Linked DNA regions of Homo sapiens. The protein of the gene in region 1 purifies or fractionates together with the protein of each later gene. This does not show direct contact. Each region holds a gene or a part of one and is shown on either strand. Other genes may lie near its edges. The genes, in order: AFG2A and ATAD3A.

The links.
Region 2: the proteins of AFG2A (region 1) and ATAD3A purify together in Homo sapiens (affinity purification with mass spectrometry; 2 studies listed by BioGRID and IntAct, with this or other methods). This does not show direct contact.

What each region holds. Positions count from the first base shown.
Region 1 is NC_000004.12:122,912,832-122,928,909, forward strand, and holds the start of AFG2A (ATPase family gene 2 protein homolog A), read left to right. Parts: upstream 1-10,246; 5' UTR 10,247-10,311; coding exon 10,312-10,474; intron 10,475-14,802; coding exon 14,803-14,927; intron 14,928-16,078. Other genes in the region: NUDT6 (nucleoside diphosphate-linked moiety X motif 6), read right to left, coding at 4,670-4,873, 9,504-9,741. UniProt on the Homo sapiens protein: ATP-dependent chaperone part of the 55LCC heterohexameric ATPase complex which is chromatin-associated and promotes replisome proteostasis to maintain replication fork progression and genome stability.
Region 2 is NC_000001.11:1,499,865-1,515,318, forward strand, and holds the start of ATAD3A (ATPase family AAA domain-containing protein 3A), read left to right. Parts: upstream 1-12,297; 5' UTR 12,298-12,404; coding exon 12,405-12,609; intron 12,610-12,665; exon of another isoform or gene 12,666-12,826; intron 12,827-15,454. UniProt on the Homo sapiens protein: Essential for mitochondrial network organization, mitochondrial metabolism and cell growth at organism and cellular level. May play an important role in mitochondrial protein synthesis. May also participate in mitochondrial DNA replication.

The DNA.
Region 1 (16,078 bases):
GTATCCTGGGGATAGGACCCAAGTTTAAACATGAAATTCATTTATGTTTCATATACACCTTATACTCATAGCCTGAAGGCAATTTTATACAATATTTTAAATAATATTGTGCATGAAAACAGTTTTGACTGCATTTTGACTGTGACTTGTCACATGAGGTCAGGTATGGAATTTTCCACTAGTGGCATCATGCCAGTGCTCAAATACTTTTGGATTTTGCAGCATTTTGGATCTTAGATTTGTAGATTGGGGATGGTCAAGCTGTACCACCACCTCATCCATGAAGACACTAAGTGCCTGTCTTAGTCCATTTGGGCTGCTATAACAAAATAACCACAGACTGGATAGTTTATAAACAACAAACTTATTTCTCACAGTTCTAGAAGCTAGGAAGTCCAAGATCAAGGTGCTGGCAGATTCAGTGTCTAATAAGGGCTCATTCTTTACAGACGATGCCTTCTAGCCCTGTCCTCACATAGTGAAAGGGGCAAACAAGCTCCTGTAGGCCTCTTTCATAAGGACACTAATCCCATTCATGGGAGCTCTGCCCTCATGATCTAGTCACCTCCCAAAGGCCCCACCTCTTAATACCATCACATTGGGGATCAGGTTTCAACATATGAATTTTAGGGGGAACAAACATTCAGACAACAGATGTGCTTACAATATTTATTGAATAAATGAATTGACTTCTCATTTTTATTCCTTGAATCACTATGCATACAACACAGGCTGTGCCCCCTGATGATCCAAATCTCAAATATCTCAATATTCATTTCAAGACCTTTCTGAAGCCAATTAAATTTTCTTATTATGTATATACACAACTTTATAATCTACTAATATACTGCTTTGGAAGAGTTCTTTGTTTTATATATGTTTTAAGTTCTAGTTCATTTTTTTTTGTTTATTCATTCATCATACACATTGCATATTCTCTCTTTCTTTTTAAAAATATTTCCCTTTGGGCAATCTTGGGTCAAAAATACAAATGACGTATTAGTGATTTTTATTATGATCTTTTAGATGTTATGATTTAAACATTACTTGTATTTAAATAATGTGGGATGACATTTTTTAAAAGATACTTTCTACATATTTGTCCATGCTTTCAGTATTAACTGAGTTCCTCTATATAATGTACATAGATCCTGTGCATATTAATTGAGCTCCTACTATGTGCCAGGCACTTTTCTAGGTGCTACAGATACAGTGGTGAACAACACAAATGAAACTCCCTATCCTTATGGGGTTCACATTCTGGTATGTGTGTGGGGAGGCGCCAAAACAAACAAAAAATAAATTATATAGAATATTAGAAGGTGATAAATGCTATGTAGAATATAGAGAAGGAATAAATATGTGTAACATGGGGAAAAGTAATTGAAATGCAATTGAAATGAAAACACCACACTTGACTATTTTAAAGCAGGAAGGAAAATCACCAAGTGAGATATAATTAACATTAATGTTGGCTTCTATTAGAAAATGTAAGCTATAATTTAACTGGACTTTACAAGAGGTAGACTGCCAAAGAAATGCCAAGGAAACTTACTCTTAAATTTTAATAATTTGTGGTTACTCAAATTGAACTTGTCCCTAATGAATTCACTGTAAACATGAGCACAGTATCAGAGACAAAACCAGCACCACTAAAGCACAATTTGAGCGACCTCTGCTGGTCACAACATAAAAATTATTATTATGATTAGGCACTGTGCTTCAACGTACATTAGCTCAGGTATAAGTCACAATAATCCTGTGAGTGATATGAGTGTCTGGCTTCATATAGCTCTAACTGGTAGAACTGGGACTGATAGCCAGTCTGTCTGGATTCTAGGCAGGCACACTCTTCTCACTGTGCAATGCTGCCCCTCAACAATACTGAAACTTCTCTCTCAGAAGACTCACATTTCCATCCCATTCATTAAAAAAATATTGAATATCTACTTTATGTCACTCGCTGTCTTTAGCTTGAGGATATCGTGGTGACCAAGACAGATAAAATATCTGCCTTTATGGAGTTTATATTATTGTGGGGGAGATTAAGTGATACAATATAATTAATTTACATACATGATATAATAGAGTTTCAGACTGTGATAAATGCCATAAAGAAACATAGAGCTGGATAAAGGGACAAGGAATGATGGCACTAGTGTGCAGGGAGAAGTCACTTCTAACAGAAGGGTCAGGGGCTTTTCTGAGAAGGAGACACTTGAGCAGAAACTTCGGCTATGAAGAACTAGATAAAGAAAGTTCTGGAGAAGCATGCTGCAGGAAGAGGAGCCAGTAGATGTCAAGGCTCTGAGTCAGACACAAGCTTGCTAAGTTTGAAAAGCAAAAGAAAGCAATGGCTCCAGCTATTCCAGCCACATCTGCCTTCGGTAGTTTATAACAAATGCCAATTATTTTTCTTTCCACCTAAAAACTCTGCACCCCAGCCTGGGCAACATGGCGAAACCCTATCTTTGCAAAAAATACAACAATTAGCCTAGCATGGTGGCGCATGCCTGTAGTCCCAGCTACTTGGGAGGCTAAGGCAGGAGGATCACTTGAGCTAAAGAGGTGGAGGTCGGAATGAGCCCAGATCATGACACTGCATTCCAGCCTGGGTGACAAAGTGAGACCCTGCCTCAAAAAAAAAAAAAAAAAAAAAAAAAAAAACAACTCTGCACCTTTCCAGAACAATTTCTTACATTACCTCGTCCACACCCCCAACAGTGGCTTCAAATCCTAGTTAGTGTTCAAGATTGGTCAAGTTCTGCATCTCTTATTCTTTGAACTGCTCTGACACTCTAAACTATAATGTACAATATACAATATAGTACTTAGTTATCAACAGGCCCTTCATAGGATACTCTTTTTGCATATATTACCAATTCTGTAGTAATAACTGGGAACTCTTAAGAGTCTGTGCCCGTGAATGATAATTATTTGCATAACTTTCCATTGAAGTGTGAGGCTGTCACTAAATTATTGAGTAGAATCTTTTGAAATAGAGCTGAACGGAGAGTTTCTGAATGTCTACTTGCTACAGGGAAGTAAGACAGGGACAGAGAAGACATCATTAGGCATTCTTGAACAACTCCTTGAAAAGCCTTGAAAAGCAAACTACCTTAAAAACTCTTGTAAATTATATAAAGGCAAATAAAATTATTAATTAAATAACTAATATGCTTCATTGCTTTCATTTATTAAGGTCATAAGGATCCCTTACTATTATAGTTTTTCTAGAAATCTAAGAATTTTGGTCCTTAAAGGGTAGTACTGAGACCACCACCAGCAGCAGCAGCAGCAGCAAAAACAGAAACAGCCAGGAAGATCACCTGAATTTTCAGGTCCCACCATAGACCTACTGAATCAGAAACTCTGGGGATAGGGCCCAGCAATCTGTTTTAAGATTCCAGGTGATTTTGATGCAATCTACAATGTGAGAATCTGTGTCTTACTCTGAGGGAAGTCTTCTCTCAACTTTCCTATGTCTCTGAAGCTAATCAGCCACTTCAAAATTCTACTCTACACTTAAATTACACGATTTTAAACAACTGTTTGGCACAATAATGTAAATATTATTAAGAAGTAATTGTTCAAATCATTGAAAAATTGGTTTGCTTTACCTGAAATTCAACATAAAAATGATCATTTACTTTACAAATTTACATAATTAGTGCCAACATGTTTTACTCTGCAATAAATTTATTCCCTGATCCCAATTCAGTGCTACTATTTGAGTAGTGAAGTTTAATTATATGTGTAAAATATATTCAAGCATATCCTTTGGAAAACTAAACACTAAAGTTGTTCTCTGTGCGTCTGTCTACTGATTGAGGCAAACTTCATCTATTTAAAAGCACTATGTAATAGTCCTATTTAAAAGCACTATGTAATAGATACTGTAGTCCCCCTTGTCCAGTTTTGCTTTCTGTGATTTCAGTTATACAAGGTCAACCATAGTCTCGAAGTGTTACATCACTACTCTTGTGCTTCGGGGCATTAATAAGGAAAATAAGGGTTATTTGAATCCAAGTACTGTGATACTGGGACAGCTGATCTGATAACAGGGAAGGCTACTAAGTAACTAATGGATAGGTAGCCTATGGATCATGGATACACTGGATATGGGGAAGATTCACGGCCTGGTGGGACAGAGCAGGATGGTGAGAGATTTCATCACATTACTCAGAACAGCATGCAATTTAAAACTTAAGAGTTTTTTTCTGGAATTTTCCATTTAGGTCATAATGCCTGTCATTCACCTCACTTCACCTCATCGTGCAGGTGAATACAAAAGGGTGAATACAAAACAATATTTTGAGAGAGACCACATTCACATAACTTTTATTACACTATACTTTTATAACTGTTCTAATTTATTGTTAGTTACTGTTAATCTCTTACTGTGCCTAACTTATAAGTTAAACTTTATCATAAATATGTGTGATAGGAAAAAACATGGTATATATACATAGGGTTTGGTACTATCTGCGGTTACAGGTGCCCACTGGGGGTCTTGGAACACATCCTGTGCAGATAGGGTGGAACCACCGTAATCATTTAATCAAATAACTCATTCCACATGAATAAACTATTTGCTTAGCTGTAACAAGCAAGAAATTGGGTGAACGTCTAAAAAGTTAATTCTGCTCATCATGAGTTTGAAACTGACCTGCAACTCCTACTTGATGTGAAGCATATCCTGGTAATCTGCTGGGCCCTTCTCTCAGCCACAGAGTCAACGTTGATGAATCCGATTCTGCGTGGTGAAAGCAGAAGCCCAGGGAAGCAGCAGGGGCAATAAATCGGCTTTGGAGGATGGGAATGTGCAGCCATACAGCTGTTCTACCTTCTGATCGCCATTGCTGTACTGCAGCTAAATGCAGAAGAAAAAAGTCTAAATAATTTCCAAAGAGACGAGTGGAATAAATTAAAACTCACCTCAGGGTTTCGCCTCCTCCAGGAAACCATCTTTAAGCAAAAGAGGTCCCCAAATGTCTTGTTCACATCGCTGGCACTGGAAGTACCATGTTTTATAGTAACCACCTTGTTTATATGATTTTTCCATCAGACTGAATTCCTTCAGAATAAAGTCATTACACTGCTGACCTTTATATCCATACCACCAAAGACAATGCTTGGCACGTAACAGATGTTCTGTAGTTTTAGAGTGGACAAATAAAAGGATTTAAACCGAATCAAATACCATTTGAATGCTGTTCCTTTTAACATCCTTAGGTTTAATCTTAAAGACAATTATGGACTTCTATTTTTTTCTTCCTTTAGGAGTTCTGTTATAATGTTTTTAATGTATAAATTTCAAGGTAGTTAAACTTTGTTTTTAAATAATGTATGCTGGTTGTAGAAATTTTGAAAATAAAAAATATGAAGAAATCAAACTTCACATTTTACTAGCATATAGGAATAAAATTCTAATTTTTCCTTATTATAGATAATATCATGGTGAACATAATTATAGGTTTTCTATCTTTGCCTTCTTTAAATTCTCTTTACTACTTAAGATTGAGCCAGGGGAAAAAGATGCTAATATCTATTTGAAACTTACTAAGTTCCAAGCACTTTATATATATTATCTCATTAAGTGCACAACCATGAAAGGTATTACTACCTTAAGTTTATGGGTGAAGAAATAAATACTTCAGATTTAGAGTTTTTAGAAAAGCTTTTCAGATCACTTTCTTCATCCATCATCTCACTTAATCTTTATAATAACGCTATAAAGCGTGTGTGTGTGTCTGTCTTTGGGGGTTGATTATATATCAAATAGTTAATTAACTTTCCCTTCTCTTTTCCCTAGCTCTGCAGGAAGCTCCTCTCTTTAAGGACAATGTTCTCTACCTCTTTGAAAGTTGCTGTGCCTAGCACAGTGACAGGCACATGGGGCCTTTAATAAAGACTTCCTGATTTGAGTTAGCATGCAGTGGAATTATGGGATCAGGTCCTTCTCACCTTGCTCTCTTTGTCTGATGACATCTTTTAAAAATTGAGGTAAAGTACATAAAGTGAAATGTACAAATCTTAAGTGTACATTTCATGCGATTTGACATATGCATATGCCCGTAACACACTTTAACATTATAGAACATTTCTATCACTCCATACATTTCACATGTGCTCCTTCCCAGGCAATCCTTCCAATCAAATTAAAAGGCTACTTTCTAAAAGCAATGCTATTTGCTTGCTGTTTTATATCTACACTCTGTGTCTTGGAGAATCCACTCTCACTGCTTCAGCTGATACATACATGAGGATGGCTGCCCAGCCCTGACCTCACTGAACACTAAACTTTCTGTTCTCCAGTTGCTCCCAGACATTTCCTGTCCTGAAGGTTACCACTTCAGACTTCACAAAGTGTGTTCAAAACTGAATCTTTTGTTGTTGTTGTTGAGACGGAGTCTTGCTCTGTCACCAGGATGGAGTGCAATGGTGCAATCTCGGCTCACTGCAACCTCTGCTTCCTAGGTTCAAGCGATTCTCCTGTCTCAGCCTCCCAAGTAGCTGGAATTACAGGTGCGTGCCACCATGCCCAGCTAAGTTTTGTATTTTTAGTAAAGACGGGGTTTCATCATATTGGCCAGGATGGTCTTGATCTCTTGACCTCGTGATCTGCCCGCCTCGGCCTCCCAAAGTGCTGGGATTATAGGCGTGACCCACCGCGCCTGGCCAAAACTGAATCTTACACCCCAAACTAGCTTCATTTATAAGCTTATTTATTTCTGGCACCAATGCTTGAAACCTTAGAATCATTTTTAAATTGCTTTCTTCTTTTCCCTAATAAGCTTTATTGCTTTTTCTTCCCTCACCTCCCATTCCCATTGCTAATATCTATCCTTTAAAGTCCAGCTCATATTCCACATCTTTGACCAGTCTTTCCTAACCACTGCTCATGAGCTCACCATTATGAATTTAAAGACTACTATGTCTGTACAATTTATTAGAACTTATTACATATGACCTAATGATATCTCTTCCATTAGCTATTTTTTCCAATTCTATTTAATATTCCATGCATTTGCAATCCTCCAGGGTAACCCTACATTATGCACTGGGGCTCAATTTGTACTAATGAAATGACTGGCTTGCCTAAAGTCACATAGCTGGTGAGTGGCATAGCAGGGACCAGAACCAGTGCTATTTCATTACTGATGCAGATATGTTATGTGTGAAGCTAACAACATATTGCCTGTTTATCCCTCTAACTTCAGTTGTTGGTAACAAAACATCAATAGTTCATGTTCTAAAAGAATATGAATAGTTGACTTCTTATTCCACCAAGAATATGGACTTCTTAGTCCATAAAGACTAAGAATAGCGGACTTCATGTGTAAATAGTCTCTCTTTATAGGCACTACCATTCAGTTAGTTTTGTTCAATTATAACAACAGAACCAGCAGGAGTTCTTCAAGGTAGCATAGTGCAGTAAGAAAGGTGTAGAGCCAGGGCAAGTAAATTTTTCTCTCTGTGCCTCACTACTGTCATCTTTAAAATAGGAATAATAATGCTATCTACCTCAAAGGGTTGTTAGGAGGATTAATTACTATTTATAAAGATCCTAAAACATCTACCATTAAGTGCAACAAAATTTGTTTTATTGAAAAAATATAACAAGTATTTGGTACTTAAGTTTACAAATTAGTTTCATCTTTGATCAACGCATCTATCCAGTAATTAGAGCTGGCGTTATTCACAAAAAGCAAGCTAAGAAGCAAATATTTTTGGTGGCAATTTGCCTAATGCCTGGCTAAGCACATGGCAGAACCTGGTACTTAAACCCAGAATGTGCACCTCCAAATCGCACAGCTTTCTGCTTTGTCATGCTGACTGGGGTAGTGCTTTGATCACCTGTTTGGTCATTGATAAGTATCAGTGGGTACAACACCTGTGTCTACCCACACACTGGAAGATAAAACGATTGATTCTCCTATTAGTGACACTGTTGCAGTATAAGCGGGCTTGTCAGCAATTACTAGCAAGTAGGAGAGAAAATAATGTGAAGAGGTAAGAAGTCTGGGAATGAGGATGAGTAAACATTGAAATAACTAGCTCAATTATATTTACAGATATGCTTCTTGCCATATTGCTCAATAGGATAAAGATTATTTTGAGTTTCCAGTGTGAGAGATTTTTCCATAGTTGAATTTGCATGCTATGCCTTCAATTAGATTATAAAACCCTCAGAGGCCGTTTGAAAAACTGCTGCACCACTAAATCGACTTCTTCCAAAGTGAAGGCTCCTCCATCCAAGCTTTCTTATCATTGGGCTCAAGGTTGAAAGCCAGTAAAAAGTTTTCTTATTGAAGACTGAAACCACCCACCACCGTCCCTGGTTAATCATAAAAGAAGCGTTATTCTAAAAAACTCCAGTTCTCGCTGAGACAGCTGTTGACCCAATTTGTATACAAATGTGACACTCTGAACCTCTCTGGTTTAGTATTTGATAGCCCAACAGGGTGACTATATTCAATAAAGATTCAGGCTGGGTGCAGTGGCTCCTGCCTGTAATCCCAGCACTTTGAGGGGCCAAGGCGGGAGAATCAGTTGAGCCCGGGAGACTGAGACCAGCCTGGGCAACACAGTGAGACACCGTTTCTAGAAAAAATAGAAAAAAGCCAGATGCGCGCCTGTAGTCCTAGCTACCCAGGAGGCTGAGGTGGGAGGATTGCTTGAGCTCAGGGGTTGGAGGCTGCAGTGAACCCTGATCCTACCACTGCACTCTAGCCTGGGAGACAGAATGATACCCTCTCTCAAAAAAAAAAAAAAAAAAAAAAACAAACTGTACATTTAAAAATAACTAAGAGTAACTGGATTATGGTTGAATGCTTGTGGTGATGAGTATCTCATTTACCCTGATGTAATTATTACACATTTATACCTCTATCAAAATAGCTCATATACCCCATAAACATACACACCTACTATGGACCCACAAAAATTAAAAATAAAAAAGAAAAGCCTCTTTGGTCCACTCAGTCCACCACCCGTATTAGAATGTAAGAGTTTTTTTCCTTGGGAAAAGTGTCCGACAGAACCAAGGCTCGGTAAAGGATACTAATAATGTAATAATATAATATTAACAAACATCTACTGAGCTTTAAATACGTGGCAGGCACTGTGCTGTGCACTTTATGTGCATTATCCAAATTAACTCTCAGTAATTCCAGGAGTTCTTATCACCGGGGTCTGTGGAAGAGGAAATGGTGGTTTACGGCAATTTCCGAATGTCGCACAGTAGAAAGTGGACCAGCAACCAGGGTTGCAGATCCCAAAGTCCGGGATCTTCACCATTTCACCCAACCGCCTTAGAGACCTCCCAGCAAAAGGTCTAAGCACGAATGCTCCAGAAAACAGGTCCAGGTCACGCGTGCCTTCTCCCTTTCCCTCTGGGCTCGACAGTGGTGCACAGAGCGACTAGGGAGTGGGGGCCGCGGTTATTTCATTAGAAAAGCTCTGGAGCCCCGGGAGCCCTTCGTCCCAGGCGCACTTGCCCTGCAAGCCCTTCTGGAAGGCGGCAGCGTCCAGGCGGTCCAGCGCATCGAGCCGCGCCAGGCGCACCGAGATGCCCCCGAATCTGTCCAGCTCGCCCTGCAGATCGCACGCTCCAACTGGCGGATTCCGCACGTAACCCTGTGCGCCCGAGGCCCAGCGGTAACCCGCCGAAGGCCCGGGGCCGTAGGTTCGGGCAAGCATCGCGCGCCAGCGGCCCCAGCTCAGTGGCTGCCGCATCTCCACGCCGCTTAATTCGTCCGTTGCCCAAATGACCCCTCCGCGCTCCAGAGCGGAGATCGCGGCCGTACATTTTAGAAGAGTGCCATCAATACCCTCAGAGTTGAGCTGGGGTTACCACTCTGCAGAGCTATGCCAAGGAGACCGCGAAGTGGTCCACCAGCCCTTCTCAGCAATTTGCCCCGCTCCAGTTAAGCGGGGAAAACCTCCTCCCCCACCGCCACTCACTTATTTTGTTTGGTAGTTTAATTCAACAGACGTTGGTTTAGGGATGGGGAAGCCGGGAGGAGATGCAAAAACGTCCTGTTTTTCAGGAATTTACAATCTAAGTGGCAGTTCCGTTCCTGGAACCTATCTTCTTTCACAGATGCCGTTACAGCTGTTTCAAAGACTGCTGGTTTTGAAAACGCTCAGTCCCTCCCACCACGCTGTGCACTGCTGCGCTCCACTCAGGGGATTACGGCGCAGGGGCGGACCCTCGCTGACTTCTGCCCCGGAAGTTTTTCTCTCAGTTGAAGCGCGCACATTGAGTCGGCTTTTCTACTGCTTCGGCTAGGGTACCTTGTGACCATGTCTTCCAAGAAGAATAGAAAGCGGTTGAACCAAAGCGCGGAAAATGGTTCGTCCTTGCCCTCTGCTGCTTCCTCTTGTGCGGAGGCACGGGCTCCTTCTGCTGGATCAGACTTCGCGGCAACCTCCGGGACTCTGACGGTGACCAACTTATTAGAAAAGGGTAAAGAATTCCGGGTGGGAGACTAGAGGCCGAGGGGGCGCAACCTGAGGGGCGGGAGACTCAGTGATACTGACTTGGGGTGCAGAGACTTTTGAAAGTTGGGCGTGGCATGGGTCTGAGAGCGGCACAGAAGCGTGTAAGACTTCTGTATGTAAGAAGCATGCAAACGTAGCCGCGCCTGCACTGGAGAAGTTAGGCTGAAATGGTTTATCCGTGTCCAAGGTTTCTCTTTTGTAAATTATTTTGAATTTTTAAGTTGCACTTGAAACGCTTTGTCTCATTTAACATTAACGACACATTTAATTGCAAAATTGTTCATAACTAGCGAACATGGGATACTTATCCTAAAAAACTAAATAACCAATTCAGTAAAAATGTGGATCACTCTGCCTTTAGGAGTGATGATAGCATTTTCTTCCAGTACTACGCAGGTTATGATATTTAATAACTGCTAGTAACTGCACACTAGTGTTAGCAGTATATATAGCTCATCTAATTTCTACAGAAGCCGTGACCGATGGGTATAGTAATGACAGTTTTATAGAGGGAGGAAAGTTAACGTGATTCCATTCAGGCTACACAGGTGCTAAGTGGCAGAGCCGATATTTGAGTCCAGATGTGTTTGACTTAAAAGCCATTCCTAGATGACAGCTCCTTTGATTTGGGAGAACGTATTTATACTGAAAAGTCTTATAAATTGAATTAAAAATTGAAAATTTATATTTGATGTGTAATAGCTTTGAAAAATGGACCAGACTAGTGGCAAAAACTTTTATGTCTAATCAGACCTTAAAGACAATTTAGAGTTCACATGGTATTTTCACTCTGCCTTAGGTATCAGAGGACAACTTGTTCTGTCCTGAAGGTTCAACTTGTTTTTGAACTAGATCCTTCCCATTGACATGTAAACATGCTCATTTCTCTTCCATCTTAAATCAGAACAAAAGCTCCACATTTTCTTCCTGCAACCGTCTCTCTATCCATTGCCAAGCTTCTTAAATGGAGTGGTCTCTGCCGCCTCACCACTTACATACTCTCCCTAGCCTATTCCTCTTTGACTTCCACCCCATCATTCCATGGAAACTGTTCCTGGTGTGGTCTCCGAGCATCTCCGTGTTGATAAACCTTACGTGACCACAGCAACTTTTGGTATTGTTGACCATTCCCTCCTTCTCGAAACACTTAACTTCTTATGTGTTGTCAAACTTGCCTGGTTTTCTTCATCTTTGTTGATGTTTCATCATTTTTCTTTGCAGGCTCGTCCTCTTCCCTTGACCATTAAATGTTGAAGTTCGTCAATTCTTAGTCCAAAACCTTTTTTTTCCTCTCAATAAATCCTGTCTCCTTGGCAAGTTCATCCAGTGCCCAGAGTTTCCCATCTATAGTCTCTTCAGTGTCAGATTTATATTTGTAAATCTTTTGTTTTTGCGCCTTGATGTGGTTGCCTTTTAGCCAAATGCTTCTCAAGCTCTCTGTGGTGAAGACTTTAAAATTTATAATAGGTCACAGATCAGCACTTTTCTAAAATACAGTAAAAATGATTTTCTAGAAAAATAAGGAAAAATTTTTATTAAACAGATGTGAAATTACTCTGTAAATTTCAATAAAAGCTTCTATATACTTATTCTCCTGTTTTGTACTTGTCATGAAGCAGTAACAAATCGTTGTGGGTCATATTTTGAATAGCACTGTACAATAACTCTTCTCATGAGTGTCCCAAAGATACTTCAGGACTAACTTCATGAGCCCGTTATTTCCTCCAACAAAATAAACTTCAACTCTGTTCAGTTTTTCCCGCTGCAAAATTCAGAAACCTAAGAGTCATCCATGACTCTCCCCCCCATATCTCACATACCTAGTCCACCACTAAATCATGTTTATTACCTAAATATTTTACATATTCCTCTTCTGCATGCCATTCCCACTGTTTCTACCTTAATTTCAGACACCATCATCTCTCACCTGGACTGCTACAACAGCCTTTTGACTGATTTTCCAGCTTCCAATTTTGCCCCTTATTCCTTTTCCATTCTGCAGCCAGAATGATCTTGTAAGATGAAGATCTTGTCATGACATTGCTTTTCATCCCTTTCTGGGCTCCCACTGCTGTCAGAGTAATGACCAGCATCTTGATGCAGCCTATTGCACTATTGTCCTGGGTGGTCTTGACCTTCTTTACATGGCTTCCCTATGTCTCCACCACTCTGCCTATACTCTCCTGAGGATGCGCCATACCCCCTTCTGCCCAGGAACTTTGTACATGCTGTCCTCTTTGCTGAGAATTATCTTTTTCTTCTCCTCATTTAGTTAGTTCCTACTCTTCTTTCAGACCTGATCTTAACATCACTTCCTTTGAGAAACATTCTCTTATTTGAAATTAGGTCAGATCCCACATGGCTCTCCTGGCACTCTAAGTCATTTTTTCATTGTATTAATCTTAGTTTATTATTTTACAGCTATCCACTGATTGTTTAATAACTCACTCATCCTACAAGGCTATAAACTCTGTGAGACCAAGGACTTGTGAACAAAAGTGCCTAGCATAGTATCTTTCATATAGTAGGCACATAGTACATATTTGCTGAATGAATAAATGAAGGGTGGATGGTTGTTTGAAATTATCTTTACTATCTTGTTAGTTAATGTGATACTTAAGGTGCTCAATAAATGTGAAAGTAGTTAATGGGGAAATTAGATGTTGACATATTTTTAAAGTATTGGAGGAGTGAGGTGAGAAGGGAACTGTGTGGACAACTTGAGTAGACCTATATAGTGTAAGCAGAGAACACGTTGGTGATGTTTTGGAAAATGAGACCAGTGGCTGGGAATTTGAACATGATTACCATTGAAAGACAAGGTGGAGAATAAATCCTGGGACATGGAGAATGTGCTGGATAGGGTGGAAGGAGAAGAAGAAAACTAAAGTCTTGGGAAGGACTGAGAACACTTGTGTGGTAATTGTCAAGAGGGAAAGATAGTTCATTGAGGTTTAGGAAGAAAGAGGCAGGAACTGAATATTATGAGATCATCTAACAGCAGTATGCTTTACTGTTAATGACCAGCAAACAATGTAAGAGAACTAATGCTCATTGGAAGGTTGAATTTCTGTCCAGCTTCTTGTATTATGCAGTATGTGTTCATTTCGTTTTATACTCAGTGCTGTTCATCTTAGCTCTGTGAGATGCTTTGTTTTTCTAGATTTGCACCTCATATAAGAAGGAAAAGAAATGTGTTGGGGAGTTGTTTTGTAGTGACAGAATAATGTAAATCATATGGGTACCTTATGGTTTTCCTTTCCTTGATTTAATTTCTTTTTTATTACAGAATATCTGTTTTCTGATTATTAAGGAAAACTTAGGTAGAGCTCTGTGATTATGGTATATATGTTTACAATAAATTTTATAATGAAGTTGTGACATTTTTAAATTCTCTAAGTGTTTCATAGATTTTGTGCTGAAAAGAAAACCATTGTATACTTATTTACTACATTTATTCATTTTATGGCTATTTATTGTGCAACTGCTATATTTAATGCACTGTAAGCATTGGAGATACAGAGAGAAATAGGACCCAATTCCTGCTTCAAAGCAGTATACAATTAAGGAGAAAGACTAAAACAAATGAATATTATGGTAAATGCTATTAACTGGCAGCACAGAGTGCTGGAGGAATTAGAGGAGGGACACCTAACTAAATATGGAGCTTGGTGGGGGTGGGGTGGATAGAAAGGAGTGGAGATGACAGCACATCATTTTCAGAGGTGTTGTTAACTGGCCTGAATTCTGGACCCCCTTTTTCAGCCAAAAGTTGAAATCACTAGTGGTGTGTGTTCGTATAAGGAAGACGACTTCTGTTACTCTCTTTACGTATTCTTGGTAATACAAAAGAAAAAGATCTGGTGACCATAATGTGGGGCAGAAGTAGAAACATAACTTAATCCTCTAGAGCCAGATAGATGTGCCAGTTCCCAGTTCAATCCTTTGAATACTAGTAGCTGACTCAACTTTGAACTTAAAGCTCAGAGACTCTCTTTTGCAATTATGTTTACTTCTTAATGAAATTAGAGACTCAGAAAAAAAGAAACCAATACTCACCCCATAAAACATCTTCTTTTTAGTTAATACTTAATATGTTGCCAGTAGACCCTCAAAAGCATTTGATTTTAAATCTGTTTTGTTATAACAAAAGTTGGAACACTAGTTTCTCCAGGGTATGGTAAGTACATTCATGTGGTTATATGGTTAGAGTATTTTTATTTACTGCAAAAGAAAGCATGCCTTAACTTCTGTTACAAAGTAGTACAAAAATAATTTTCTTTTCCTTCATAGTAGATGACAAAATTCCTAAAACATTCCAGAATTCCCTTATTCATCTTGGACTCAACACTATGAAGTCTGCAAATATATGTATAGGTCGACCAGTGTTGCTTACTAGTTTGAACGGAAAGCAAGAGGTAAGAGTCTTTTTCATTTCCTTAGTTTAGAAATACAAACTGAACATTGCAAATCCAAGAATCTAAACTCTGAAATGCTTTTGAGTGCCATGGTAGTCAAAGGAAATGCTCATTGGAACATTTTGGATTTCAGATTTGGGATGCTTAGCCAGTAAACATAAGGCAAATATTCCAAAATGGAAAATTCAAAACGCTCCTGGTCCCAAACATTTTGGATAAGGGATACTCAACCTGTGTTTGAGATGTTTCTGATTTTAATTTTCAACACAAGCAGGAATAAATGAAAAACTGTATTTTAAAAGACATTAACATGTATATTAACTCTGTTCCTTTGCTGTCTATGACTCTGCTGGGCATAGTAGCCCCTAAAATGTTATGTAGAGAGAAGTGTTGCCTCCGGCGATAGTGACAGTATTTCTCCCTGTCAGTTAGTTATATTTCTTTATAAAAATATTATTTTGGGGGTAAGAAGGTCACCTGTTCTGTATATAAATATTTTACTATTCTCCCTTGTTTCAGCTGTTTCTCCTTGCTGTCATTTTTCATACCTGAGATTCTAAGCCTGGAACCTTTCCTGGATCATTTTTGGCAGCTTGGCTTTCTTTTCTGCTACCAGCCCCTTATCTTTCATGGCTTCCTTTGATGCTTCTCTGATTTGCTGGGGATCCTTTGGAAATACTTTGAAATTTTTTGTCTGCTGATGGCACCCCTCCTATTCTTTTCATTTTTCTGGCTTATGCTTTAAAGGTCCTTTACTGTGTCTTTTAGAAGAGAGGACTATAAATGTGTGAGCTTAAGCTAGAAATTTTCGCTCCTCCCTCTTAACATTTAAATCTGATAAGACCCAGGTTCTGACAAAGCTCTTGTTCTGTGTCCCTCACTATTTCCTGGATGTAGTTTAATTTCCAGGCTGGATTACTTTACAAGTTATTTTGCCTTAATATTTTTGTCATTTTCTCATTATCACCTGTTAATGCCTTTATCTTTTTTCATATATTTTTCATATCTTCTACCGTCTTCACTGTGGGATCATTCTTGATCTTTAGAAAAAGATGTAATATTTATTAAAAAGTTTATTTTTCATGAGCCCATGTAGTATTTAAATTTTTTAAAAAATGCAATTTATCTTATTGCAATTGGTATCAGATTGT
Region 2 (15,454 bases), on another chromosome or scaffold:
ATTACAGGCGTGAGCCACCGTGCCCAGCCTTTTTTTTTTTTTCTTTTTGAGACAGAGTCTTGCTCTGTTGCCCAGGCTGGAGTCGTCCAGTGGCACGATCTTGTCTCACTGCAACCTCCGCCTCCCGGGTTCAAGCCATTCTCTTGCCTCAGCCTCCCAAGTAGCTGGGACTATAGGCACAGGTGGACACGCCCGGCTAAGTTTTTGTATTTTAGTAGAGACGGGGTTTCACCATGTTACCAAGGCTGGTTGCAAACTCCTGAGCTCAGGCGATCCACCCGCCTCAGCCTCCCAAAGTGCTGGGATTACAGGCGTGAGCCACCGCACCCGGCCTACACTGATAACTTATAGCAAACTTTACTTTTGTTGAAAACCTTGGGAGTTTGGGATTTTAATTATCCTTTGTGGCCGGGTGCGGTGGCTCACGCCTGTAATCCCAGCACTTTGGGAGGCCGAGGCGGGCAGATCACGAGGTCAGGAGATGGAGACCATCCTGGATAACACGGTGAAACCCCGTCTCTACTAAAAATACAAAAAAATAGCCGGGCGTGGTGGCGGGCACCTGTAGTCCCAGCTACTCAGGAGGCTGAGGCAGGAGAATGGCGTGAACCCAGGAGGCGGAGCTTGCAGTGAGTCGAGATTGCGCCACTGCCCTCCAGTCTCTGGGGGACAGAGCGAGACTCCGTCTCAAAAAAAAAAAAAAATTATCCTGTGCTATTAATAAGACTTCATTCAGTCTAATATATATATATATGTATAAATGTATATATAAATGTGTATATATATATAAATGTATCAGCCACTTCAGGCAGGGCGCAGTGGCTCATGCCTGTAATCCCAGCACTTTGGGAGGCCGAGGCGGGCGGATCACGAGGTCAGGAGATCGAGACCATCCTGGCTAACAGGGTGAAACCCCGTCTCTACTAAAAATACAAAAAAAAAATTAGCCGGGCGTGGTAGCAGGTGCCTGTAGTCCCAGCTACTTGGGAGGCTGAGGCAGGAGAATGGCATGAACCCGGGAGGCGGAGCTTACAGTGAGCCGAGATTGCGGCACTGCACTGCAGCCTGGGCGACAGAGTGAGACTCCTCTCAAAAGCCACTCCAAAGGCATACTTAGAATTGGTATAGATGGTTCCTTCCTGGTTCTGTAAGTACTTGAAGGCTTGGCTGAGTGCAAACAGCTCACATGCTTGAGCAGACCAATTATTAGGAAACTTTATTAACTCTATTTTTTTATTTTTTGAGATGGAGTCTTACTCTGTCGCCCAGGCTGGAGTGCAATGGCGTGATCTCGGCTCAGTGCAACCTCCACCTCCTGAGTTTAAGCGATTCTCCTGCCTCAGCGTCCTGAGTAGTAATTACAGATACTCGCCACTACGCCCAGCTAATTTTTGTATTTTTTTTTTTTGAGACGGAGTCTCGCTCTGTCACCGAGGCTGGAGTGCAATGGCACGATCTCGGCTCACTGCAAGCTCTGCCTCCCGGGTTCACGCCATTCTCCTGCCTCAGCCTCCTGAGTAGCTGGGACTACAGGCGCCTGCCACCACGCCCAGCTAATTTTTTTATATTTTTAGTAGAGACGGGGTTTCACCGTGTTATCCAGGATGGTCTCGATCTCCTGACTTCGTGATCCGCCCGCCTCGGCCTCCCAAAGTGCTGGAATTACAGGCGTGAGCCACCGTGCCCGGCCTAATTTTTGTATTTTTAGTAGAGGCAGGGTTTCACCATGTTGACCAGGCTGCTCCTGAACTCCTGACCTCAGATGATGCACCTGCCTCAGCCTCCCAGAGTGCAGGGATTACAGGTGTGAGCCACAGAGCCTGGCCTCTATTTCCACAAGAGTTTTTCCTGTTAGTTACTCATTGTCTTTTTCCTTGAATCACCTGGAAGTAACTATCTTCAAATAAGTGTCATCCCGTAATGCACTACGGCAGTCCGTGGGTTACTACATTAAGGATAGTTGTCAGTGGCCTCCATGCCTTTGGGTAAGTTTTTTTTTGTTTTTGTTTTGTTTTGTTTTGTTTGTTTTTTTTGAGATGGAGTCTCACTCGTCGCCGAGGCTGGAGTATAGTGTCACTGTGTTGGCTCACCGCAACCTCCATCTCCTGGGTTCAAGCAATTCTCCTGGCTCAGCCTCCCGTGTAGCTAGGATTACAGGCGTCCACCACCATGCCCAGCTAGTTTTTATGTTTTTAGTAGAGATGGGATTTCACCATGTTGGCCAGGCTGGTCTTGAACTCCTGACCTCAGGTGATCCGCCTGCCTCGGTCTCCCAAAGTGCTGGGATTATAGGCATGAGCCACCGCTGGCCTCTAGTATAGGTTTTAAATTTACTCTGGCTTTTTTTTTCTCTCTCTTTTTTTTTTTGGAGATAGAGTCTCGCTCTGTCGCCCAGGCTGGAGTGCAGTGGCATAACCTCGGCTCACTACAACCTCCGCCTCCCGGGTTCACGCCATTCTCCTGCTTCAGCCTCCTTAGTAGCTGGGACTACAGGCGCCCACCACCGCGCCTGGCTAATTTTTTGTATTTTTAGTAGGGACGGGGTTTCACCATGTTAGCCAGGATGATCTCCTGACCTCGTGATCCACCCGTCTCGGCCTCCCAAAGTGCTGGGATTACAGGCATGAGCCACCGTGCCCAGCATTTTTTTTTTTTTTTTTTTTTTGAGACAGAGTCATGCTCTGTCGCTGAGGCTGGAGTCCAGTGGCACGATCTTGTCTCACTGCAACCTCCGCCTCCCGGGTTCAAGTGATTCTCCAGCCTCAGCCTCCCAAGTAGCTGGGACTACAGGCACAGGCCGACATGCCCGGCTAATTTTTTGTATTTTAGTAGAGACCGGGTTTCACCATGTTGCCAAGGCTGGTCGCGAACTCCTGAGCTCAGGCGATCCACCCGCCTCGGCCTCCCAAAGTGCTGGGATTACAGGCATGAGCCACCGCACCCGGCCTACACTGATAACTTATAGCAAACTTTACTTTTGTTGAAAACCTTGCGAGTTTGGGATTTTCATTATCCTTTGCTATTAATAAGACTTCATTCAGTCTAATATATATATATATAAATGTATAAGCCACATCAGGCCGGGCACAGTGGCTCATGCCTGTAATCCCAGCACTTTGGGAGGCCGAGGCAGGTGAATCACGAGGTCAGGAGATCGAGACCATCCTGGCTAACAGGGTGAAACCCTGTCTCTACTAAAAATACAAAAAGTAGCTGGGCGTGGTGGCGGGCACCTGTAGTCCCAGCTACTCCAGAGGCTGAGGCAGGAGAAATGGCACGAACCCGAGAGGTGGAGCTTGCAATGAGCCGAGATAGCGCCACTGCACTCCAGCCTGGGCGACAGAGCGAGATTCCGTCTCAAAAAAAAAAAAAAAAGTAAAAGCATATGTATCATGATAAAATGGACACTTTACCCATCGCCTGACTTTGTGTTGAATTGGGCAAGAGCCTCCTCCCGTCCACGTGGGATGGCCTTCCTGATGTGGCTCTCCAAGACCATCCCTGGAGGGCATAAAACCTCACAAATGCATCAGGCCGTGTGCTGGGGATGGGGCATCGTCACGCCAGGTCTGACTAGGAAGGAGGATGGGGAGGCAGGGCTGGGGGCTTTGAGGTCGAGGCGTGGCCGTGGATTCCAGAAAGCCCCTTGGCTGGTGTGGTGCCTGCCCAGCGGCATCCGTGTATCCTAACACCCGCCCTCTGTGCCCCTGTGCCTGCAGGCCACATCAAAGGACGCCCTGAATGTGGCACAGATGCAGGAGCAGACGCTGCAGTTGGAGCAACAGTCCAAGCTCAAAGTGAGTGGGGCCGGTGTGGGTGGGGAGGCCGGGGCGCACATGGGGTTCGGGCATGGAGATTGGTAGGGCTACTGCCGGTGGGTAGGGCTGGTGGCATGTACATGGGCAGCAGTGGGGTGCAGGGCCGAGCTTGGGCGCCTCATTTCACAGAAGGAAACAAGGGGAGGTGAGAGACAGTGCCGCAGAGCCTCCCGAGAGGGAGGGCCAGTGTTGGTGAGGGCGTCTGGTTGTCCGGAGGATGGGGATCTTCTTGACATTCTCACCTCATTTCTTTTCACTCAGCAGAATTTTTTTTGCATTGCATTGCATTGCATTGCATTTTAATTATTTTATGTATTTATTTTGAAACGGAATCTTGCTCTGTTGCCCGGGCTTGAGTGTCGTGGTGCGTTCTCGGCTCACTGCAATCTCTGCCTTCCAGGTTCAAGTGATTCTCCTGCCTCAGCCTCCCAAGTAGCTGGGATTACAGGCACCGACCACCACACCCGGCTAATTTTTGGATTTTTAGTAGAGACGGGTTCACCATGTTGGCCAGGCTGGTCTTGAACTCCTGACCTCAAGGGATCTACCTGCCTCGGCCTCCCAAAATGTTGAGATTACAGGCGTGAGCCACAGTGCCTGGTCCCTCACTTTCAGTCCTGAGTTCACAGGCGGGGTTCACATGTTGCCTGTTGTGGGCATTGTAGCTTAAAAATTTAATTGGCAAGGCCAGGTGCGGTGGCTCACACCTGTAATCTCAGCTCTTTGGGAGGCCGAGGTGGGCGAATCATCTGAGGTTGGGAGTTCGAGACCAGCCTGACCCAACATGGAGAAACCCCATCTCTACTAAAAATACAAAATTAGCCGGGCGTGGTGGCGGGCGCCTGTAATCCCAGCTACTCAGGAGGCTGAGGCAGGAGAATCACTTGAACCTGGGAGGCGGAGGTTGCGGTGAGCCGAGACCACGTCATTGCACTGAAGCCTCAGCAACAAGAGGGAAACTCTGTCTCAAAAACAAAAAAAAAAAGAGAGAACAGGAGTGTGGTCGACTGCTGGGCCTGCCATAACCACTGGGGCGTGTGTGCCCACAGCTCTGAAGACTACAGGCCCAAGGTCAGGGTGCCAGCTCAGTCCCTCCCTGTGGAGTGTTCTTTGCTGGGTCCTCATGTGGCGGAGAGAGTGACTGAGCTCTCACTCTGGTGTCCCTTACAAGGATGCTCATCCTGCACTGCTCACAGTGGTGGTGGTAAGCCACCGCGCCCAGTGCCAACTTTGTCCTTCAACAGTTTGTGTGTGTGTGTGTGTGTGTGCGCGCCAGGCACAGTTGTAGGATCCAGCTCCACAGGTTCGGTGGGTTTTCTCTTTGTGTGCAGAGACAAGAGAGTGTAGAAATAAAGACACAAGACAGAGATAAAAGACAGCTGGGCCCGGGGAACCACTGCCACCTAGACGTGGAGACCGGTAGTGGCCCCGAGTGCCAGGCTGCGCTGTTATTTATTGGATACAAGACAAAGGGGCAGGATAAGGAGTGTGAGCCATCTCCAGTGATAGGTAAGGTCACGTGGGTCACGTGTCCACTGGACGGGGGCCCTTCCCTGCCTGGCAGCCGAGGCAGAGAGAGGGAGGGAGGGAGAGAGAGAGACAGCTTACGCCATTATTTCTGCTTATCAGAGACTTTTAGTACTTTCACTAATTTTGCTACTGTTATCTAAAAGGCAAAGCCAGGTGTACAGGATGGAACGTGAAGGCGGACTAGGAGTGTGACCGCTGAAGCACAGCATCACAGGGAGACGGTTAGGCCTTCGGATAACTGTGGGCGGGCCTGACCCTCCACAAGAGGTGGAGGAGTAGAGTCTTCTCTAAACTCCCCCGGGGAAAGGGAGACTCCCCTTCCCAGTCTGCTAAGTAGCGGGTGTTTTCCCTTGACACTGACGCTACCGCTAGACCACGGTCTGCTTAGGTCACGGGTGCCTTCCCAGGCGCTGGCGTTACTGCTAGACCAAGGAGCCCTCTGGTGGCCCTGTCCGGGCGTAACGGAAGGCTCGCACTCTTGTCTTCCGGTCGCTTCTCACTATGTCCCTTCAGCTCCTATCTCGGTATGGCCTGGTTTTTCCTAGATTATGATTATAGAGCGAGGATTATTATAATATTGGAATAAAGAGCAATTGCTACAAACTAATGATGAATGATATTCATATATAATCATATCTAAGATCTATATCTGGTATAACTATTCCTATTTTATATATTTTATTACACTGGAACAGCTCGTGCCCTCGGTCTCTTGCCTCAGCACCTGGTTGGCTTGCCACCCACACACAGTGGCTCATGGCTGTAATCCCAGCACTTTGGGATGCCAAGGTGGGTGGAGCACCTGAGGTCAGGAGTTCGACACCAGCCTGGCCTAAATGGTGAAACGCTGTCTCTACTAAAAATACAAAAATCAGCCAGGCATGGTGGTGTGTGCCTGTAATCCTACCTACCTGGGAGGCTGAGAGGCAGGAGAATCACTTGAACCCAGGAGGTGGAGGTTGCAGTGATCTGAGATCGTGTCACTGTCTTGCAGCCTGGGTGACAGAGTGAGACTCCCTCGCAAAAAAATAAAATAAGTTTTTTTTTTCCCTTTGGCAATTCAAGATCCCTAGAGGTTCCATATCAACGTATTAATGCTTTTTCTATTTTTGTAAAAAATAATTCGGGTTTTACAGGGATTGCATCCAGTCTCTATATTGCCTTGACGTCTCTTAGCAATGTTGTCTGGTTTTCTTTTTTTTTTTTTCTTGAGATGGAGTCTCACTCTGTCACCCAGGCTGGAGTGCAGTCGTCGGCCAGGATGGTCCCAAACTCATGACGTCAGGTGATCTGTCTGCCTTGGCTCCCAAAGTGCTGGGATTACCGGCGTGGGCCACGGCGCCCGGCCAGTTTTCATTGTACAAGTCTTTCACCTTCTTGGTTAAGTGAATTTCCAAGTATTTTATTCTTTCAGATGCTATTGTAAATGGAAATGGTTTCATAATTTCCCTTTCAGATTATTCATTGTTAGTATGTAGAATTGCAGCTGTTTCTGCTGTTGATTTTGTTTCCTGTAACTTTGCTGATGTCACGGGGTTGTTTTTTCCAATATGGATTCTAGGATTTTCTTTTTTCTTTTTTTTTTTTTTTTTTGATATGGAGTCTCGCTCCGTCACCCAGGCTGGAGTGCAGTGGCACAATCTCGGCTCACTGCAAGCTCCGCCTCTTGGGTTCACGCCATTCTCCTGCCTCAGCCTCCTGAGTAGCTGGGAATACAGGCGCCTGCCACCATGCCCAGCTAATTTTTTGTATTTTTAGTAGAGATGAGGTTTCACTATATTAGCCAGGATGGTCTCGATCCCCTGACTTCGTGATCTGCCCGCTTCAGCCTCCCAAAGTGCTGGGATTACAGGCGTGAGCCACCGCCCGCGCCCAGCAGGATTCTAGGATTTTCTACATATAAGATTATATCATCTGAGAACAGGTGATTTTACCTCTCCCTTTTCAGTTTGGATGACTTCTTTTTCTTCTCTAATGGCCCTGGCCACAACTTCCAGTGGTATGTGGAATAGAAGCAGTAAAGCATTCTTGCCTGGTTCCTTACTCAGAGGAAAAGCTTCCAGTTTTTCACCACTGAGTATGTCACCTGTGGGCTTGTGATATATGGCCTTCATTATGTTTAGGGCGTGTGTTTCAATTCCTGGCTTGTTGAGTGTTTTTCTCATAAAAGGGTGTTGAATTTGGTCAAATGCTTTTCCTGCGTCAGTTGAGAGGGTCATGTGGTTTCCTTCTTCCACTCTGCTAATATTGATTGCTTTTTGTATGTTGAACATTTCGTATGTGGAACATGATTTTCGTATGAACTATCCTTGCATTCCAGGAATAAATCCTGCTTGGTCAGGGTGTATAATTTTTTTATTATACTGCTGAATTCACTTTGCTGGCATTTTGTTGAGGACTTTCCCAGTGATGCTCATCAAGGATATTGGCCTGTCATTTTTCTTGTGGCATCTTCATCTGGGTTTGATATCAGGGTACTGCTGGCTTCCTAGGATGAGTGAGGAAATGTTCTTCAATTTGTCCAGGAGTTTGAGGAGTGCTCTGATTCTTAATGTTTTGTGAATTCACATGTGAAGAAATCAGGTCCAGGTCTTCTCTTTCAACTTTTACAGCTTGGAGATTTTAGGTTCCCAGAAAAATTGCAAGGGTAGCACAGAGAGCTCCCGGGCCTGGGGCCTCGCCACGTGGTGAACGTCATGTGTCACTGTTGGCCCCACCCGCGACTGGGTCTTGCCCCAGAATCCCACCCAGGAGGCCACGTGACATTTAGCTGTCACTTCTGGTGGGCTCCTGCCAGGTCCCGTGCTTCCCAGAGGGGTGGCCCCGTGAGCATCTGCGTAGCCCCTTTCCTCTGCTGGGCCCTGGGTGAGGTGCAGCCACTCGGGTGGACCCTGAGGGTCCCTGCACCTGTTTGCCCTCTCTTGGGTGGGCTCAAGACCAAAAATGATGTTGAGCAGTCCTGGGCCCCTGAGCCACAGTGGCGGTACGGCTCCAGTCAGTGTCTCCTGCGCTCCTGGGCCCCTGACCCACAGTGGTGGTCCAGCTCCGGTCAGTGTCTCCCCACACAGTGGCTCTTGGCGAGGGATGGGCGCTGGCAGAGGGGACGGGCACCACGTGGTCATCCCCATGGCAGGTTCTATCGTGGCGACGGTGTTGTGGGAGGATGGTGTGCTGCTGCCCCTGCACCCCGTGAGATGAATCCTGCCTCTGGGAGGCATAGCTGGGATGGGGCTAGGGACCCGCTCAGCTGTCCGGGAAGGGTCCCCTGCCCTGTGCTTCCTCCAGGCGTCCTGGTGCCCTCCTGAGCACGGCGCCCAGTGGGGGTCCCCACACCCTGACCCTGACCCACGGGTGACTCCCTTTGGGGACTCCATGCCCTTTTCTGGCATTAGGATGGAGAGTGACCTGTCTGGCAGAAAGGCTGGACCTGAGGCTGCCTGAAGCGACACCGAGGGCCACAGCCCCAGCAGCTCCAGCCTTCACATGCTAGATGCCAAGCCCTGTGCCCAGGAGGACAGGAAGGTGGGGCAGGGGTGGCCTTGGTGCCACCAGCCACGTGCCTCAAGGTGGGCAGTGGCTGCCTCTGCCCTGGAGGCCTGTGAGGGTCAGGGTCTGAGGGTCTGAGGTGCACTATGACCCGGGGGCACTGCCTGGCCACGGCTGAGACACGCAGAGGGTCTGCAGTTCCCACCTGCCTCTCGGAAGCTGCCCTGGGTCGGCCGTCAGTGAGGCTCCGCCTTGGGCTTTCTATTATTAGAAAGTCATTGAGCAACAGCAGTGCTGAGGACGCAGGCAGGGCTGTGGGCACTGCAGGGGCTGCCCCCGGTGTCCACACACGTGCTGGGCTCTGCCGAGGTGCGGGAAGCCTGTGTTTCACGCTCAGGCCATCCTGGAGCCCCTGGTTTGGTCCCTCCCCACCTCGGGGCCCTGGCGTGCATTTGGGGTGGGGGGTTCCCATGGCGGCCTCCCTCAGCTCCCTCTCTCCCCACTAGGCCACGGCGTATGCCTCCGAGGACGGGGTCCTGACCGAGGCCATGATGGACACCCGCGTGCAAGATGCTGTCCAGCAGCACCAGCAGATGATGCGCTGGCTGAAGAGGGGGAGGCCTGGGCCCGAGGACGAGCAACCCTCATCCTGAGTCCATGGGGAGACCACACCTCACGGAGCCTGGCCGCGGACCCCTCCCACCCCTGCCTTTGCGGCCCCGCACATTTAGGAAATACTCCCCGTAATAAAGTCCCACGGGGGCCGCACCGCTGTGTCTATTGGCTGGGGCGGGGTTTGGGGCCCCCTAACGTCCCCCTGGGGTCAAAGGTGACAGAAAAGGCAGAAGCTGGGGCTTTCTGGAGGATTTAACCACAGAGGGGTGGGCTGCACAGGAGGTGCCTGCCACGGCAGGGCCGGGTGCCCGTGCCCCATCCTGAGGCCGTGCATACGCGGGTGCCCTTCGCCTCCCTCCCCTCCGCCAGAGCTGCCTGTGGCCAGACACACGGTGGAGGGAAGTGCACGCGAAACAGACACAGCGGCTTCAAATAGATGCCGCCCCTGCCCGCGCTTTGCAGCTAGTCCCTGCAAACCTTGATGATGGGGCTGGGCGCGGTGGCTCACGCCTGGAATCTCAGTGAGGCCAAGGAGAGTGGATCACCTGAGGTCAGGAGTTCCAGACCAGCCTGGCCAACATGGTGAAACCCCATCTCTCCTAAAAAAAAAAAAAAAAAAATTAGCCGGCCGTGGTGGCAAGTGCCTGAAATCCCAGGTACTCAGGAGGCTGAGGCAGGAGAATCACTTGAGCCTGGGAAGTGGAGGTTGCACTGAGCTGAGACCATGGAATTGCACTGCAGCATGGGCAACAAGAGTCAAACTCCCTCTAAAAAAAAAAAAAAAAAAAAAAAGGGCCAGGTGGCACATGCCGGTGGTCCCAGCTTCTTGGCTTGGAGGCTGAGGTAGGAGGATCGCCTGAGCATGGGAGGCAGAGGTTGCAGTGAGCTGAGATCGCACCATTGCACTCCAGCCTGGGTGACAGAGTGAGACCCTCTCAATAAATAAATAACCAAAACCTTGATTACAGCCATGGGGTGGGGGTGGGGGGACGTCTGGCTATTGCTGGGGAAGTCATTTGGTTTTTCTCCTCCTCTCCTATTTTTTTGGTACAGACGGGGTCTCTCTTTGTTGCCCAGGCTGGTCTCCAACTCCTGGGCTCAAGCAATCCTCCTGCCTCGGCCTCCCAAACTGGCGGGGTTACAGGCGTGAGCCACCGCGCCTGCCCTGTTTTCTTTTTCTTTTTTTTTTCTTTTCTTTTTTTTTTGGCGATGGAGTCGTGCTCGCCCAGGGTGGAGTGCAGTGGCCTGATCTCGGCTCACTTCAACCTCCACCTCCAGGGTTCAAGCAGTTTTCCCGCCTAAGCCTCCGGAGTAGCTGGGATTACAGGCGCACGCCACCATGCCCAGGTTAATTTTTGTATTTTTGACAGGGGTTTCACCATGTTGGCCCGGCTGGTCTCAAACTCCTGTTTTCAGGTGATCTGCCCACCTCGGCCTCCCAAAGTGCTGGGATTACGGGTGTGAGCCACCGCGCCTGGCCGGCATTTTCTGGCTTTTTTTTTTTTTTTTGACAGAGTCTGACTCAGTCGCCCAGACTGGAGTGCAGTGACGAGATCTCGGCAGCTCACTGTGTTATATGTAAATTTTCTGTGCCGCCAAAGAAGTAGAACTCGAATATAAATTTTTCTCAGCTAGATAATTTACTTCTATAGAAGGGGACATCTCATAGATGGAGCAATGGCGAGCGCTTGGACAAGGGAGGGGAAGGGGTTCTTATTCCTGACGCGGGTAGCCCCTACTGCTGTGTGGTTCCCCTATTGGCTAGGGTTAGAATGCACAGTCTAAACTAGTGCCCATTGGCTATTTTAAAGGGAGCAGGAGTATGGGCCAGAGTGGCGGGGTGAGTGGTTTGGCGGGAAAAATGGTTATGGGACAGGTAACTAAAGGTGACTCAGGTCAAAGCAGGAGACCGGGATTAGTTAGGACGGAGCAGGTGACCAGGGCAACAGATGTCAACTACTGACTAGAACTGGTGGAAAAGGTTGTTTACTGAAACTGCGAGGAAGGTAGACTTTAAAATGCAGGACAAAGACTGAACATACTGATATACTGATTCTTTGAAGGGAAGTTTAGAACTCATTGTATCTAACATTATTCAGGCTTAAAACAGTTTCCAATCCAGTGGGAAAAGTCACTCCATATATTCCGTGAAGTCAACCAGTTCCATCAAGGAGAAAGTCAGGGCCGCTGGGAGCGCGTGGACCGTGGGCTCCGGGGCGGCGCCTGCCCGGGCACCCCGGCCCCGTCCACGCCCCGCAAGAGGAGCTCGCTGGCCCCGCCACGCGGGAAGGGGTCGCCCCGGGGTCTTGGGCGGGAGGGCCGTGCGGGCTGCGGAGACACCGAGGAGGGGAGGCGCCTCTCCTGAGCTCTTGGCGCAGCGACCCCAGGGCGCCGACTCATCGCGGAAGGGCTCGGCTTGCCCGGGCGCCGGTGCCGCCTCGGGTGAGGTTCCCGCGAGACTCTTCTCTGCGTCCTGGACTCACCGCAGGGCGCCCCGCCGCACGGATCGAGAACCTTGGGGCTCCCTGGAAACTTGCCACCCGCTGCCGCCAAGGCCGGAACTCCTCGGAGCCCCTAGCAACGGAGCCCCTAGCAACGGAGCCCACGCGGATGCGGCGCGGGGCTGACGCTGCCTTGGGTTCGCCTACGTCCCTCGGGAATTTTGTCCCGGCGTGGCTCCCGTAGCCAGATGCTTCGCCGCTCCCGCCCCGCTGGCTCCCAAAGCCTGTTCGGCAGTCGCGGCGCCGTCGCTATGGCGTCACTGTCCTCGGGGCCAATCCAAGGGCTGCGCGCGTGTCCCTTACGCGCTTCTATCGCCGGGAGGAAGGGGTGTGTGTGGCGCCTGCGCAGTGGCGGTGACCACCGGCTCGCGGCGCGTGGAGGCTGCTCCCAGCCGCGCGCGAGTCAGACTCGGGTGGGGGTCCCGGCGGCGGTAGCGGCGGCGGCGGTGCGAGCATGTCGTGGCTCTTCGGCATTAACAAGGGCCCCAAGGGTGAAGGCGCGGGGCCGCCGCCGCCTTTGCCGCCCGCGCAGCCCGGGGCCGAGGGCGGCGGGGACCGCGGGTTGGGAGACCGGCCGGCGCCCAAGGACAAATGGAGCAACTTCGACCCCACCGGCCTGGAGCGCGCCGCCAAGGCGGCGCGCGAGCTGGAGCACTCGCGTGAGTGCGGCGGGGCGGGGCGGCGCGGGCGGGCGGGCGGGACGGGCCGGGGAAGCGGGAGCCCTGGCCCTTGCCGCTCCTCGCCGCTGTCGGCAGCCACTTCCCGGGCGAGACTGCGCCCCCGGAGCACCCCCGGCCGGAGCCGTGTCGCGTGCCGGGAGGATCGGACTCTTTCCGTCACCCGTTTGCACCTCTGCAGCTGTCAGGAGCGGGTCAGGTGCGGAAAGCGGTGCGGAGGTGGCGCTCATAGGTTACAGGGGTCAGGGTCTGGGGCTGGCCGTGGTCTTCAGTTACCGCCGAGCGTGCGGGATCCTTCTGCGCTTGCCGCCTCCACGTGGCACAGGCCAAGGCGTGGCCAGATGGGTAGATGGGTTTGTTGGGTGGTTGCTAGCAGTTTCCACGTAACAAGGGAAGCGTATTTGAGAGTTACTTGATTCTAACGAGACTAGCAGATTTGCACTTCTTGTTGGAAGACGTTAGCATTTGCACGGCGAGGTCTGTGAAGCCACAGGCCAGGCCGTGCTGCTCAGCTTGAGTAAACCCCTGACCCAAGGCCCTCAGGGTGTGAGCACTCACCATGTTGTTCAGGCTGGTCTTGAATTCTGGCCTCAGGTGATTCGCCCACCTCGGCCTCCCAAAGCGCTGGGATGACAGGCGTGAGCCGCTGCTCATGGCCTTCCTCGGTAATTTTAACCATCAGGTTAGGATGGGAATCAAGGGCTGGACTTCAGGGCACCTCGGAGGACAGCGGATGTTGGTGACTGACTTTCTTGCTGCAGGCTTATTTGGAGGGTTCCTTTGTGTCCTAGTTCCTGGGGGTTTTCACCCGCTAACTTCACTTAGAGATTGAAACTTCTCCCACTTCCAGAAGCTGAATCGTAGTGATCAGCCTGCGGCCCCCTGCAGTGGTACAGGCCTGGTTGAGCAGCCTCAGGCCGCCTCCCCATAGTGCAGACCTGTGCCTCTGAGTTGCTCCAGTCCTGGCGGCCCCGGAGCTCCTGACCCGCAGTCCGCTCTGCCGGCGTTGCCAGTGCCTTGGTCTGCCCTCTCTGTGGTGGAGCGGGGCCCGGGGCAGGGTCTCCAGGTGCACCGTGGGGAGCCCTCCATCAGGCTTTTGTTTCCTGTGGATTGTGTTCCAGGTGTGGGCTCTTTCATTCTGATCCCTTCCCTCCTTCCTGGCCTCACTGCTGGCAGGTGAGAGAGGTTTCTCCAGAGTTGACTGCCCCCTTTCCCCGGGTGCCCCCTGCCCTGCCCCTCTGCCTGGTAGCCCCTCTGCAAGCCCGGCCCCTCCCGACGCTCCTGGCTTCCTCCGTGCCCCTTTCCTGGCAGCGGGTCGCCGAGATTCGGCCGGAGCCCATTGCTTTGTCCTTGCTGCTCTCCAGGCAAACGGGCGGCTCCTCCTCACCGACTGCCTCCTCTGTCCCTTGAGGCTATAGCCCCATGCCGCCTGGTTCCCAGAGTGCCCTGACCCCTCCTCCGGCCTGTCCTTGGAAGTCACAGCAGTACATTATCCCAGAACTGTCTGTGAGCACCAGCGCTCGCCCTGCACTCCACAGAGGGGGTGCCTGGAGGAGAGCCTCGTGCCCTGTGGGTGTGAATTCACGCGCTGGGACGCACGTCCCTGGCACAGGGTCACACCAAAGTGGTGAATGATTGTTCTCACTCTAATAACCGAGAGGCCACACGGGCACCTGACCTGCTCTTTCCCCTCTCCTCCTCCCCAGAGTCACTGGGGGTAGGAACTGTCAATGAGCCATTTTCAGGGGAGGGAGTGGCCTCAGCTTAATCCAGCCAAAGGTCCCCTCGGGAGGAAACAGGCAGAGCTCCTCACCGTGACACCCACGTTCCTGTCACTGCTCTGTGGCAGGACCCTGGGTGACTGACACACCCTCAGTCCCCTCGGGGTCAGAGTGAGAGTGGTTGAGAGCCCGGGGTCGCTTCAGCCCTTGGCTTCCCGAGCTTAGCAGCCAAACCCGTTGACCTGGCACTGTCTTCCCTGAGAGGCAGGTCCCGGTCTCATCTGTGCTCTGTTCACTGGGGCCCCCGAGGTTAGCTACCAAGGCGCTTCCTGAAATCTGACACTGATGCCCGTCAGCCCAGTTCGTGCCTAACCACAGGCCCAAGCAGACCCACCCCAACACCAAAGCGTCGCTGCCTCTGTCTAAATGCAACGAGTGCTCCCCACGGCACTTCCCCCTGCGTCAGTCACCTCCAAAAATTACACCTGAGCTGAGAACAGACGCTGGGCTCTAGTTAGTGACGTGTTTGCTGCAGTTGACTCTGAAGGCTTAAAAAAGTGAGACGGGCTGCGGGAGGAAGAGAGACGGGAACAACGCACCAACCCAGGAGCATCGGGGGTCCCTGCCTACTTTACGTGTCTTTCTGTGTTAGCAGATTTATATGTTTATTTATTTATTTGAGATGGAGTTGCCGTCCGTCGCCCAGGCTGGAGTGCAGTGGTGCAACCTCGGTTCATCGCAACATCCACCTCCTGGGTTCAAGCAGTTCTCCAGCCTTGGCCTCCCAAGTAGCTGAGATCACAGGCGTGCACCACTGTGCCCTGCTCTTTTTTTGTCTTTTTAGTGGAGACAGGGTTTCGCCATGTTGGCCCGGATGGAGATTTTTCTTTTTTAAGTCTCTCTCTGTCTAGCTGGAGTGCAGCGGTGCGATCTGGGTTCACTGCAGCCTCTGTCTCCGGGGTTCAAGCCATCCTCCCACCTCAGCCTCAGAGTAGCTGGGATTACAGGCGTCCGCCACTGCGCCCAGCTAATTTTTGTATATTTAGTAGAGATGGGGTTTCACCACATTGGTCAGGCCGGTCTCTAACTCCTGGACTCAAGTGATC